Homo sapiens: one gene and its partners. The protein of the gene in region 1 purifies or fractionates together with the protein of each later gene. This does not show direct contact. Each region holds a gene or a part of one and is shown on either strand. Other genes may lie near its edges.

Region 1 (3,500 bases):
CACAGTGCCTGGGTTTTTGAAGCCTGGCTCTGCCATTTACTACCTGTGAGATTTTGGGCAAGTTACTTAATCTCTCCTTCCCTTAGTTTCCTCATGTTTAATGTGGGATCAATAATAGTAGCTGAGACCAGGCATGGTGGCTCACACTTGTAATCCCAGCACTTTGAGAGGCTTAGGTGGGCAGATCACTTGAGCTAAGGAGTTGGAGACCAGCCTGGGCAACATGGTGAAACCCCATCTCTACAAAAAACACAAAAATTAGCCATGTGTGGTGGCGCACGCCTGTAATCCCAGCTACTCAGGAGGCTGAGGTGGAAGGATTGCTTGGGCCTGGGAGGTCTAGGATGCAGTGAGCTGAGATGGCACCACTGCACTCCAGTCTAGGGGACAGAGTGAGAACCTGTCTCAAGATAATAATAATGGTACCCACCTTACAGAATTATTATGAGATAAATGATTTGAAACAGTTAGAGTAGTACCTGGTATACTAAAATACTCAATTTGTAGTATTAATAGCTGTTAGGATTATGATTTTTGTATACAGAAAATTCAGCTTCTCCCATCTTTAAAGGGCAAGAGGATCTTCTCAGCCTTAATTCTGCATTTACTTCTTCCTGCCATTTATCTAAAGACCTCTGATGACAGCACCTCCTGGGTTTGCTGAGCCCATTTTTCCCTGGAAGGGGGTTGGACAGAGGTTTTTTTTTTCTTTTGAGACAGAGTCTCACTCTGTCACCCAGGCTGGAGTGCAGTGGTGCGATCTTGGCTCACTGCAACCTTCACCTCCCAGGTTCAAGTGATTCTCCTGCCTCAGCCTCCCAAGTAGCTGGGATTACAGGTGCATGGCACCACACCTGGCTAATTTTTGTATTTTTAGTAGAGATGGGGTTTCACCATGTTGGCCAGGGTGGTCTCAAACTCCTGATCTCAGGTGATCTGCCTGCCTCGGCCTCCCAAAGTGCTGGGATTACAGGAGTGAGCCACTGAGCCCGGCCTGGACAGAGGTTTTAAGAACTACAATTATTGTAGCTGTCTGAATACCAGTAACATGGTATTCCTACATTTCCCAAGTAATGTAAGGGCCCAATTAGGCTGGCAGAATTTTTGGAAGCATTAAAAGCCATGTGATAGACTCAGATGTTATGGAACTCAGCATAAAGGAGTAAACTGGCTTCTCCAGTTGATATAGGCTGTGCCTCTGTCCGTATTGCAATGTCTTATCTAATTCCATCCCAGCTCAGTCCCTTGCCAACCCTTCTCCCATTACTCAGATAGTGCCATTATTCAGGATGGTAGGGAGGTTGGGGTAGTGCAGTTTTATTTATCTCCATCTTGTGCTCCTAATGTCTTCAGAGGAGCTTTTGGTATCTTGTAACCTAAAGTGCCTACTACCTTAGGGTGACCATCCAGCTCCTTCCAACATGTACATGGCCAGTATATCACTCATGTGCTTACTTGTCTACCATTCACACATCAAAGCAAAATGTGTGCACTACAAAATTTCTGCACTACAGAAATCTGACAAAGCACAGAGAAAAGAGGTCATAACCCTGTCTACATAGCTGAGCCATTATTGCAGGATGGGCTGTAGTACAAGGGCCCTGAGATGTAGGGAAAGAGTGAAGAGGCCCCACAGGGACACAGTCAGGTGATAGAAGTTGTTACTCAACTTAAAGGCTTCTCACCGGGAGTTAAAGAATCTAGGGTCTGAGAGAAAGCCTCTGTAACATTTTCTTTTTCTTTTCTTTTTTTTAAAGACAGGGTCATGCTCTGTCACCTAGGCTGGAGTGCAGTGGCCCAATTGTAGACCACTGCAGCTTTGAACTCCTAGGTTCAAGAAGTCCTCCCCCCTCAGCCTCCTGAGTAGCTGGGACCACAGGCATGCACCACCATTTCTGGGTAATTTTTTTTAAGAGGTGGGGTCTCGCTATGTTGCCCAGGCTGGTCTCAAACTCCTGGCCTCAAGCGATCCTCCTGCCTTGGCCTCCCAAGGTGCTGAAATTATAGGCATGTGCCACCACATCCAGCCCAACATTTTCAAAGATAGTATTTATTCTTTAGTATTATGTGACTGCTATAATTTTTCTTCAAATTTAAAAAATAATTTTTCTTTTTAAATTCTTTATTCTCCTTTCTTTTCAGTCCTGGTTCCAGGCTTATCTTCAGCTTTTTAATTTGGAAATTTTCAAACCTCAGTAAAGTTGAAAGAATGGGATCTTCTAGATTCTTCAGTTGTTATATTTAACCACATTTATCTCATATGTCTACGTATTATCCAGTGATGTATCTGAATAATATCTATTTAATTTCTCTCCCTAGATATTCTTTTTTGCCAAATCTTTTGAAAATAAGTAGTAGACAATTTGACATGTTTACCCCAGATACTCCCGCAATCTCCTTTTAGTTCTTCACCCCAATATTGTGCTTCAGACTATTTGGAACAGTGTAGGATGCTGGCAAGTACCAAAACAATTAAGTAAAAAAGAAATTTGTTACCAATAGGGTAACAAATGACCCCTGTTGCAGTTGTATCTCTGCTCCTTTATAGGCAGCAGTTGTGTAAGAGGATATTTGTGGCTTGAGGGCTGTGTGTCTGTGTGATTTCAGGGTGCAGCCTAGCTTACCCCTCCATGTTCTGTGACCTGGCCATGAAATCTTCAACATCTAGTGTTTTAAAGAAGATAGGGCCAGGCGTGGTGGCTCATGCCTGTAATCCGAGCACTTTGGGAGGCCGAGGCGGGTGGATCACCTGAGGTTGGGAGTTCGAGACCAGACTGACCAGCATGGAGAAACCCCATCTCTACTAAAAATACAAAATTAGCTGGGTGTGGTGGTGCATGCCTGTAATCCCAGCTACTCGGGAGGCTGAGGCAGGAGAATCGCTTGAACCCAGGAGGTGAAGGTTGCTGTGAGCCGAGATTGTGCCGTTGCACTCCAGCCTGGGCAAGAAGAGCGAAACTCCGTCTCAGAAAAAAAAAAAGAGAGAGAGAGAGAAGACAGGACACCTTCAGCTTTTGTACTCTCCTACCAGAGAAGATAAATGGTGGTGATACTAATTTTGACAAAGAGGAGAAACTGTGTCCTCATGGACACATAACTGAAATACCTGTAAAATACTGACAAAAGATGGTGAGGACTGGACTCAGTGGCTCATGCCTGTTATCCCAACACTTTGGGAGGCCAAATTGGGAGGGTCATTTGAGGCCAGAAGTTGGAGGGTGCAGTGAGCTATGAATGTGTCACTGTACTCCAGCTTGGGTGACAGAGTGAGACCCTGTCTCAGAAAAGAAAAAAAAAAATTAGGGGAAACTGGGCAAATGCTATATAGGAACTCTTTGTACAATCTGCAACTTTTCTCTAAATTTAAAATTATTCCAAAGTAAAACATTTATTTAAAAAAAAAGGTGATGAAGAGATAGTGTTAGAAGGAGAATCCAAATAAAATGTTGGCTTTTTACTTTTTGTTTGTTTGTTTGTTTGTTTTTTTGAGATGGAGTCTT
Region 2 (3,500 bases), on another chromosome or scaffold:
ATTTTAGATTTGGTGTTTGACATGTTTTTCAGACAATGGAGTCAATGAATGGTGGAAAACTCTATTCCAATGCATATCTGAATGATTTAGCAGGCTGCATCAAAACATTGCGCTACTGTGCAGGTTGGGCTGACAAGATCCAGGGCCGTACAATACCAATTGGTAAGTATCTTTGAGAAACCACTAATGGTGAGGATAGGAGCGAGGAGTTTACTATAGAGCTGAATAATTTCAAACTCTCCCTTTTAAAGATGTCAACCAAATAAGGCAAAATTATTTTCCTCTTGACTTTGAGACAACACAGTTTTCAACTTAGAAGTTCTATTAAAATTCATAAAAGGTCTTTTAAAGTTGTTTCAGCATAATCATGAAGATAACATTATAGATATTTTAGAAAATGTCAAAGTAAGAACATTCCTTTGGCAGTAATTACTGATCTGAGGCAATTGCCTCTCTAAGGTCCCAAACTTTTTAAAGCTGACCTCTGAAATTATTTATTTGGGTTTTATTCCAATACTGACATTTATATCCTTTCTGTAATGTAATTATTTAAGCCTCTTTACATGTTCCAGTATAAGTCAGTTATGGTCATCTGTGCCTGGTCAAACTCAGTGTAGTTAGACCAGACTAATCAAACAAGCCAGTTCACACGGACTCGTTTCAAATATCTTCAAAGCAAGATGGGACTGTGTTTGCAGCCTAAGTTAAGGGTTTGTGTGTGTGAATCTGTACGTATGTGTTATTTTAGTGGGGTATGCACATAATGGAGTAGAAATACTAAAGATATTTCATGTGAAACATGAAAACACACACATTTAGGAAACAGTATGGGTGGAATTTAATTCAGGCAAACCTATGAACTTTAGGAATACAATACCCTCCAGGACTGGCCCTGATGTGCACTTCCAATCCAATTGGAGCATGCAGGAGGTCAGAAGTGATAGCAGAAAGTTGAGAGGAGAGTAAGACCTCGGTGGTACTAAGAAATGTGGCTACTTTAGAACTGTCCTACTTTACTCCGGGACAAAATGGGAGAAGTCACTTAAAACACAAATAGATCTTGATGAAGAGAGTCCTTGCTGAAACCAGGAAGCTTCTGTGGGAACTAGAACAGAATTGAATGTAAAGCATAATGTATCTCTCTGGATGACCACATTAAACTTCGGGGCACATAAATTGGTCAAATTTAGATTGAAAATAAATGTCTTATACTCCTGTCATTTTCTTCATGTATTTAGAGAATTTGCTATTATTGTTTGGTAGGCAAATAAAATACATTTTAGAACAAGTCAGTAGGAAAGGCTTATTACTCATAGGGAGATTTTCTTTTTAATTCTACTGTTTTTAATTTTACTATTTCTAAAAATTATATTATAACTTTTAAAAAGAATTCTCTTATTGGTAGAACTTTGAGCTACCAGAAACAAATTGGAATGTGGTTCTTCTCTTCGCCAGAGACCTCCTACTTCCTTTCTCGTCCCTTTTTTATAACACTTAGAGAATAAAGATAATTTTCAAATCAGGCCTCCTAGAAGATGAAAGGTGGAATTAATTATCTTTCAGATTTTTGCCAATTTTGCCTCTTTGATTTCACCTAACTCAATTTTATGGTTCCTATCATTTCGAATTACTATTTTAGGGCTTCACTTACCATTTTGGGAATAGTTGGAGATATAGATGGTCTCGATCTCTTGACCTCGTGATCTGCCTGCCTCGGCCTCCCAAAGTGCTGGGATTACAGGCGTGAGCCACCACACCTGGCCAGATATATGTTTTTAAAATTATTGTCTACACCTTTCTCTCACATCACCAACCACCATTTTGTGAATGTCAAATACATTTGTTTATATATGATTGTGTGTGTTTTATTTTTCAGATGGAAATTTTTTTACATATACAAGACATGAACCTATTGGTGTATGTGGCCAAATCATTCCTGTAAGCTTTTCTCCTATATAATTCTCAATTTTAAAAAGAAGAGTTCTTATTCTATCTAATGATGAAGCTTTCTCTAAAACAGATGGATGCTTATGTATTTGTTAAATGTGGAGTAAATGTAAGATTTGTTGAACTTGGTCTCCCTGTGACTAAACTTCTTGCATATGAATTAGGTAGTCCGAAAACCTATCTATATTCTGGCATATCTCTTGAGAATGTTTTAATACTACATCATCCATAAATGTTAACCCTTTACTCTATGGGTTGTTTTATTAAAAGTTGTATTATGTACTCTTTATAAGAGCCAAGCTTTACATGTATATGGCAAGGTGCTCTCCACTGCACATCTGCAGGATAGCATTTTGGTGGAATGTAGTGGGGCCTACTATTCTCCAACGCACTTTCTCATTGAGACATCTCATCATGCAGAACAGTAGCTCCCAGAGTGTTCAACTCATGACACACATTTTTTAATCAAAATGGAAAAAAGAATACCAGAGGCATTTGAAGCACTGCATGGAATATATTTTACCTTTAGATAAGAGGCTCAGATCCTCCATATTACTCTTAGAGGAAAGTAGCCTTTTTAAGAGGATTGTGAAGATTTTTTAAGCCCAACAAACAGGACACTATCTAAATGATTTTATTTTAACTGACATGCTTTAAAAGGCCAAACAAAAAAATGGTAGCGAAGTCCTTATGTGAAGAAATGGTCAAGACTTATCTTTGGCTCCAATGAGATTGAAATATATTCATATCAATATTTTAGTGAAATTGCTTATTAATTCAAAAGTCCCAATAAATCGATAAAAACTATATAATTATGAACACTGATAATAGCTGATATGTACTACTTGTCTATGCTAGACCAGTCATTGTGTTGAGCCCCTGGCCCTCTTTCTTGGTTAATGCTCAAGACAGCCTTCTGAGGCAGAGAGGACTATTATCAGCACTCACAGATTATGAAATCAGATACAGAGAGCACGTAACCTGTGTGAGTTCACATGGCTGGTCAGTGATTGAGCTGAGATTTGAACCCAAGTACTTGGCCTCTGGACCCTGGACATCTTTGTCTTTAGCAAGGTATTTTTCCTGGAAATAAAAGCTACTAAATAATATTATTGGGTAAATAATTACAATAAATGACTTATGGAGAAGGAGAGTAATCATCCTTTTTAAACATTTTTAGATAACTTACAGTGTGCTCCATAATAAGCCAAACCATGCAGTGATTTTTTTTTTCCTGGTAGAAAAAGAACTCAACAGTACTTGATTAAATTTTGAGGTTCTCTCCTATTTCCTTCTCATATCTCATATCTGGTTTATTCAGAGCGTTTTAGCATTTACTAGTTGCTTTTAGCAATGAAGTATAATATGCCAGATGATTTCACAAAACTACGCAATTATTACATAACATCTACAGGGGGTGTATAATATGGAAGTTGGATTAGCAAATATGCCTTTTGCAATACAAAGAATCTATTGTTACATATTGCTTTCTAGTGGAATTTCCCGTTGGTTATGCTCATTTGGAAGATAGGGCCTGCACTGAGCTGTGGAAA
Region 3 (3,500 bases), on another chromosome or scaffold:
CATAATAGCTAAAAAGTGGAAATAACACATGTGTTTATCCAAGCAAGTAGATAAACAAAGTGTGGTCTATCCATACAATGGAATAGTATCTAGCCATAAAAAGGAATGATACTGACACACACTACAATGTAGGTGAACCTGGAGGATGTTATGCTCAGTGAAGTAAGCCAGTCACTAAGGGACACACACATACGAGTCACTAAGGGACACACACGTACCAGTTACATGAGAAGGACTTACATGTACGATTTCACTTACACGAGGTGCCTAGTGTTGTCACATTCATAGAGACAGAAAGTAGGTGGTGGTTTCTAGGGGCTGGGGGAGGAGGCGCTGGGGAGTAGGGTTTAATGGGAATAGTTTCAGTTCAGGGATGATGGAAGGAGTTCTGGCAATGGATGGTGGTGACTGATGGCCGCACAGCTCTGTGAATGTACTAAAAACCACTGAATTGTACCCTAAAAAAGGCTAAATTTTATAGCGTGTGAATTTTATTTCAAACTTTTTTTAAACTGGGGGACGTGAAGGAGGAAGATGAAGAATGAGGCTTATATCCTGAATGTTCCAACATTCTGAGGCTGAAGGGAAAAGGGGGAATCAGCAATGGAGACTTAGGAAGCAGGATCCTGGTGTGGAAGGGGACAGATCCAGCGGGGCAGGGGGAGAGCAGAACGAGAGCTGTCCTGAGGATCTGGCAGCGTGGAGGCCACTGGGGACCCCACATTTCAGCAGTGTGGATTCAAGAGAATTGGAAAGCAGAAAGTGATGATAGTGAGTATAGGGGGAAAGGGTGTGCAAGCTGCTGCTGTGGGAAGCACGTGTGTAAAAACGTATCCCTCAAAGAGGCCGGGAATGGGCCACGGCAGCAGGGACGCTATGCTCTGGGGACACTCACGTGCGTGGGGTATCTCGGCCGCCCTCCAGTAGCAATGATGATGTGATCGGCTGACAGCAGAATCTGAGGAGAAAAAGAGAAAGCCGTGGGTCAGACAGGTGCATGGTGATCACCCCACCGGAGGGCCTGAGCACCACAGACCTTGGCCAGCAGTTCCCACGGCCCCTGCCCTGTAGCGTGGACCCTTGGCCAGCAGTTCAGAGGCCCTATGGAGCTGGAATCCCATCAACCATCAGCCTGGCAGGAGGGGGACAGGCAGAAAGCACAGGGAGATGTTCTAACTCCAAGCACTTCAAGGCACCCTCAAATCCCCAAAAAATCCTGCAAAAAGGGTGTGGTCACCAACCCTGTTGCCATGCCACTCCGAGCAGCAGGGCAGCAAATTATTTGATCACGTTAAAGACAAGTGCCCAGCCTCAAAAGAAGCCACCTTTTTGATTCCAGCAGCACGTGTTACTAAGAACAGCACCCAGGCCAAACACAGCTGCAGTTGGTGCCCAAGGTCTGCAGAAGGGTCCACAAGGAGCCACGCGAGTAAGTCAGATGCTCACCTCTTTCCCACCTTTGGCAACGCCGCAAACCGTGTGCTCGTCAACAAAGCTGGCTTTGATGTTAAAGTACTTGACTTTTCTGAAAGATAAAGATAAGATTTTCAAACACTTCCTCTGCAAATTAAACCTCACCAACTGGATCAATAGGGAACACTGGTAAAAGGGAGCTCCAGCCCCCAGCAGGGCCTGGTGCTGTGGCTCAGATGGACCAAGAGGTAAGCGGCAACCATGCTGAGAAGCATGGAGGGGATGTGGGGGCACCTCGCCTGTCCCCCAGGGATCCCAGGGACATGTTAACCACAGGTGTCAAAGCAGGGACGGAAGCCAGCTCAGCACGGTCCTAAGAGGCCACGTACAGCCCTGGTGTGCAGCAAGAGGTGGCTGGACCTCTCTTGGGGACAGTCCTCATCACCCGGACATGTTCCAGCAGGGAGCTGTGGTGCCCACCAGATGGTGTCACCTTCTGATTTCAGGGGTGTGGTAACACCAAGAGAACGGGCATGACAAGGCTGGCAAAACAGTGGCTGGGAGCATAGTGCACAGAAACAAATGACCCACGCTTTCTTTTCTTTTTTTTTTTTCTGAGTCAAAGTCTCACTCTGTCGCCCAGGCTGGAGTTCAGTGGCACGATCTTGGCTCACTGCAATCTCCACCTCCCAGGTTCAAGCCATTCTCTTGCCTCAGCTCTTGCCTCAGCCTCCTGAGAAGCTGGGATTACAGGCTTGCGCCACCACGCCTGGCTAATTTTTGTATTTTTAGTAGAGACGGGGTTTCGCCATGTTGGCCAGGCTGGTCTTGAACTCCTGACCTCAAGTGATCCACCCACCTCAGCCTCCCAAAGTGCTAGGATTACAGGCATGAGCCACCGCGCCCCACCCTTTTTTTTTTTTTTAAAGACATCTTCTCACTCTGTCACCCAGGCTGGAGTGCAGTGGCATGATCATAGCTCACGGAAGCCTTGTTTCAAGTAACTGGAACTATAGGCATGGGCAACCATACCTGGCTAGTTCATTTTATTTTTTGTAGGGATGTAGCAATAAAACTATGTTGCTCAGGCTGGTCTCCAACTCCTGGGCTCAAGTGATCCTCCCACCTCAGCCTCCCAAAGTGCTAGGATTACAGGCATGAGCCACTGCACCCGACCAACACTTTCTAATGACAAAAGGACCGTGCTGCAGCAAGGGTTCTGGGAAGGCTCTGCCTCCTGCTTGAGCCTGCCTTCTCCCCACTGGCAAGCCTGTGCCTCTATGGGCTGTCTGAGCTGCGTGAAGTTCCTACAGCAAGAGCCCTTCAATCACCTCGACAGCCAGGAAGCTGCCACGGGACACAGCCGGGCAATGCTCATGGCAGCACTTTTCAGAAGAGTGAAAAAGCAGAAACAGCCCAGGTGCGCCCCAGCCTCCTTCTGCAGGTGGCTCCGGAGCAGGCAGTGGGCTGGGCCTGTTTGGTGCCCGTCCAGGAGCTGCCCAGGGCAGGGAGGAGGGAGGGCAGAGCCTGCTGTCCCCAGGAAACTGTACCAGGGGATACAGAGCCCCACAGAGAAACACAGAAATGCCACAGCACAATGTGGCTTAGCTCCCTGGATAGGGGAGAGCTTGTGAGGTCCAGGTGGAGGGCAAGCAGTTGGCTTCCTGGCTCCACTTTCCTGGATTTAGTGAGCACAAAACTGCTGCCTGCTGTGAAGCCCCAGGAAGACCCGCCCTGGGGCCAAGCAAATGGTGCATGAGGAGAGCCACCAGACCTCTGCGGGACCACTGTCCCCTCCACAGCCCCGGGAGAAAGGCTGGGCCAGAGGCGGTACCAGTTTCAGGCATCTGCTGTGCTGGCAGCTGAGCCCCAGGAGAAGGTTGTAGGCCAGGGGAGCATAGGCCTCTGTGCTGGAGATCCCCAGGGGCTGACAGGAACGGTGACCAAGTAGGGACATTTGCTCCAGCGGAAAGCACCAAGCTCCTGCACCCACACCCAAGGAGCTGGAGGTGTGCAGTAAGAAGGGGGTTCACGGGGTGGGGGCTTGCCACTGGGATGACCCTCACCACATATTAGCCCCAGGCCTA
Region 4 (3,500 bases), on another chromosome or scaffold:
GTAAAATATGCAAAAGCCTTAGCTAACATTTAATGTCTCATGTAGGGCGAGGATTCAGTGAATGGTACTTAATTATTATGTTTCTGTTTTTTTCCTGCCCTAAGCTTTCTGGAAAGAGGTACATTATTATCCTGATAGCTATCTGTTCACCTACACCAAAGAATTCATTAATTTGATTATTCTTTTTCCATTCCGAGTGAAAGTAAACATTACTGGCTGGGGCTTAGACACATTGTTTCTGATGATTTTTAAATTAATGCTTCCAAGTGATTCATGCAGTTTAGGACCTTTGACTAGTGTTTAAGTGCTTTTTATTTGTAAGTAAAGAGGCAGTACTGTGGATAAGGAGCGAGGATGGTACGAGCATTAGCTTGTTTAATAGTAGCATGAGGAAATCTTAAATAAAAGGAATTTTACTTGAAACTGTTAGTAAACTTTGTATAATAAATTATTTAGCATTCTGTTCCTATCAGCTAGTCATATCTGGTTTTTAATCTACCATTTTTATGTCAGTCCCTTTAATGTTTAGTTTTCTTAAATCAGGGAATCTTATGTGTCATTTATCAGTTTCCTCAAATTCAAAGTTCTATTTAATGAGCATGGGTTAGGGAGGATGGAGAGTTGGAATACTCTATTCTCTTTTAAATAGACAAACAAAAACAGTAACGATGGGAAAGAGAGGGAGCACTTTGTTAAAGTTGGCATTGATGCCCTGTTTTGTCTTCCATGACTTATTCCCTTCACAATGATGATAAATGAACACATGTGAATACCTCCTCTCAATAAGACTGCAGTAGCTCCACCATTTTAAATAACTTACTGAGTGTGGAAGTCAGGTAGAGTAGACATGCACAAACTCATGATATATATGCCAAGTGAGTTTGTATGATACAGTGGAAAAAGGCCTGGAGTTAAGGTCAAAAGATCAGGTTTCTTATCCCAGTACTAGCACTTGTAGGCGCTGTACTCTTAAGCCTCATTTTTTTTTTGTCTTTTTTTAATCTGTGATCAAGGATGAAAGATAGTACTTGCTGTTGAAAACATCAAATAAGATGAAATGGTTTTAATAATGAAATTAATGCTGTTGTGTGAATACTAGTTATTTTCATACTAAGGAGCAAGAATTCATTGAGTCTCAAAACAGGTTGTGTTATTCTGTATACAGTATTATTTTACATTAATGCTACGAGCAGTAACTGCCCATTGTGTTTTCTAAAAATCATTTAAGTGATCTTCAGTGAAAATTATAATCTCCACTGAAATGTTCTGTGTTTAGCCTATCTTAGGTTTTTATTTTCTTTCTTTTCAAAAGCCTTAAGTACATGTAAACCATTTTAAAATGCCCTTTTAATCCTCCTCAAAGGACTTGCTATGCCTCAGGGTTGAAGTTTTGCTTCCTTGGGTCAAGCATAACATGATTCCATATGCTAGAATCCTAATTTGAAGGAGAATATAAGTTTCCCAACCTTATTCCCTCTTCTAGGGTAAATAAACTACACTTCAGTTCAACAGTGTAGAACTTGGTAAATTTGAGAACAGGCCTCTGTTTCCCTTAAGTGATAGGAACTTTCTGTTCTCTTTCTCTAACTTCTGTAATAACGTGGAGCTGTTGTTCTTTTCGTATGGTTTATTCTGCAATCCTAGAAACCTTTTTAAAAACAATTCTATTCTGTTAGAAGTCAAGAGCATAGTTACCCTTGGGGGTGGGAGGTTGTGACTGGGAGAGGGTAGCAGAGGAGTTTCAGGGTTCAGTAGTGTTCAGCTTCTTGATGTGGGTGCTGATATATAGTTGAGTTCACTTTGAAAATTTATTGAGCTTGTAGGACTTAAGGTCTTCTCTGTGTATATATTATACATATTCCAATAAAATATCCCAAAATATTGACCTCACCTTGGCATTATCCTCAACAAGTCCTCCTTCAGTTGGAAGGTTTGTTTTCTTCTCTGTACTTACAGTTTGAATTAATCTGCTATATATTTTGTTTTAATTAAGTAAACTTAGGAAAAACCTGGGTCTGCTATGTTTTAAAATGCTTATAGAAAAGAACCTGAAAGGAAGAAGGGCAAAATCACTTATTCTAAGTGGTATGATTATTTTGATTTTTTCTTTATACTTGCCTATGCTTTTCAAAATTTCTGTTATGCGTTTATTACTTTTGTAGTCTATGAGAAAAATCTGTACTGTCGTGAAAGAAGAAATAAACTGTATAAACTTGGGGCTTTTCATAATAGGATATGAAAATATATTTAGAAAACATCATTATAGGATAACAGTTTTTTTCACATTTGTACTTTGTTACAGATATGCTAGTCTGTATTTTTGCTGTGCTATTGAGGATCAGGACAATGAACTAATTACCCTGGAAATAATTCATCGTTATGTGGAATTACTTGACAAGTATTTCGGCAGTGTGAGTAGTATTTTATTTTAGGAAATTGAATGCCATAGTATATTTTGGAACCTTTTCTCTAACAAGTTTATTTTTTGGTTGTCTTGGGGATTCTAACCGCGGGAGAGGGTGGGAATGACTATTTATTAGTAGAAATTATTAAGTTGTCCATATTGGGAACATGCAGAGCCCAGTCTTATTTAGCTTGTAGGAATATGTTTTCAAGTACTTGAGATTTGGAAATTAAGCTTACTTAAACCAGTGATACTTAGTCATTTTTAGAAAGAGTTAAGATTGATTCACTCTAGTTCGATTTTATTCACTACCTGATAGTGAATAAGCATCTTCTGCTTCTGCAAGTTTTAACAATTTTTTCTTTTCTTTTTTCTTTTTTTTTTCCTTTTCAGGTCTGTGAACTAGATATCATCTTTAATTTTGAGAAGGCTTATTTTATTTTGGATGAGTTTCTTTTGGGAGGGGAAGTTCAGGAAACATCCAAGAAAAATGTCCTTAAAGCAATTGAGCAGGCTGATCTACTGCAGGAGGTAAGCTACTTATTCTCTTCACTAGGCACTAGCATGTTTTGCTCTTGCTGGGGAAGTCTCATTCATCATTCTTACAGTTTCAGAAAGTACTCTGAAGCATGCTTGTCATGTAGTGTCCATCCATGTGCAGTTTATTGACTGGAATATGTGTCAGTCACGTCAACTCAGTTATCTATGGATGGATGGTTCAGTTTGGAGATGGTCTATCGGTCAGGCCTCTTCCCAATGGCCCTTTTTGGACCCTAAAACACTGGAGTCTAAACCTTTAGAGGACAGACTATTTGAAGAAGGGAAAAGATTGGCTGAAAGTAGCAGTAAGTTGAGAACTCTCCATCTATTGCTTCAAATTGTTTAAGATAACCCCCTTTTTCATTAGTGTAGATAATCAGGAGTTGACTATGAGATTATGACATTTTAATTCCAAATTGGCTCATATTTTTACCTCATGTCCATTAAATGCAAAAGTAGCCAAGCAAATGATAGTGTTTTCTAATTATACTTTTTGTAGAAACTTCCAGGTTTTTTTTGTTAGCAAAACTAAACAGTATTTGCATTTCTCTTTGCT

Evidence for each region.
Region 2: the proteins of PI4K2A (region 1) and ALDH1A1 purify together in Homo sapiens (affinity purification with mass spectrometry; one large-scale study listed by BioGRID and IntAct). This does not show direct contact.
Region 3: the proteins of PI4K2A (region 1) and TXNRD2 purify together in Homo sapiens (affinity purification with mass spectrometry; one large-scale study listed by BioGRID and IntAct). This does not show direct contact.
Region 4: the proteins of PI4K2A (region 1) and AP1S2 purify together in Homo sapiens (affinity purification with mass spectrometry; one large-scale study listed by BioGRID and IntAct). This does not show direct contact.

Annotation. Positions count from the first base shown.
Region 1 is NC_000010.11:97,668,171-97,671,670, forward strand, and holds part of PI4K2A (phosphatidylinositol 4-kinase type 2-alpha), read left to right. Parts: intron 1-3,500. UniProt on the Homo sapiens protein: Membrane-bound phosphatidylinositol-4 kinase (PI4-kinase) that catalyzes the phosphorylation of phosphatidylinositol (PI) to phosphatidylinositol 4-phosphate (PI4P), a lipid that plays important roles in endocytosis, Golgi function, protein sorting and membrane trafficking and is required for prolonged survival of neurons.
Region 2 is NC_000009.12:72,925,554-72,929,053, reverse strand, and holds part of ALDH1A1 (aldehyde dehydrogenase 1A1), read left to right. Parts: intron 1-32; coding exon 33-162; intron 163-1,876; coding exon 1,877-1,938; intron 1,939-3,441; coding exon 3,442-3,500. UniProt on the Homo sapiens protein: Cytosolic dehydrogenase that catalyzes the irreversible oxidation of a wide range of aldehydes to their corresponding carboxylic acid.
Region 3 is NC_000022.11:19,914,319-19,917,818, forward strand, and holds part of TXNRD2 (thioredoxin reductase 2, mitochondrial isoform 5 precursor), read right to left. Parts: intron 1,526-3,500; coding exon 1,447-1,525; intron 959-1,446; coding exon 896-958; intron 1-895. UniProt on the Homo sapiens protein: Involved in the control of reactive oxygen species levels and the regulation of mitochondrial redox homeostasis. Maintains thioredoxin in a reduced state. May play a role in redox-regulated cell signaling.
Region 4 is NC_000023.11:15,844,814-15,848,313, reverse strand, and holds part of AP1S2 (AP-1 complex subunit sigma-2), read left to right. Parts: intron 1-2,302; coding exon 2,303-2,411; intron 2,412-2,797; coding exon 2,798-2,935; intron 2,936-3,500. UniProt on the Homo sapiens protein: Subunit of clathrin-associated adaptor protein complex 1 that plays a role in protein sorting in the late-Golgi/trans-Golgi network (TGN) and/or endosomes.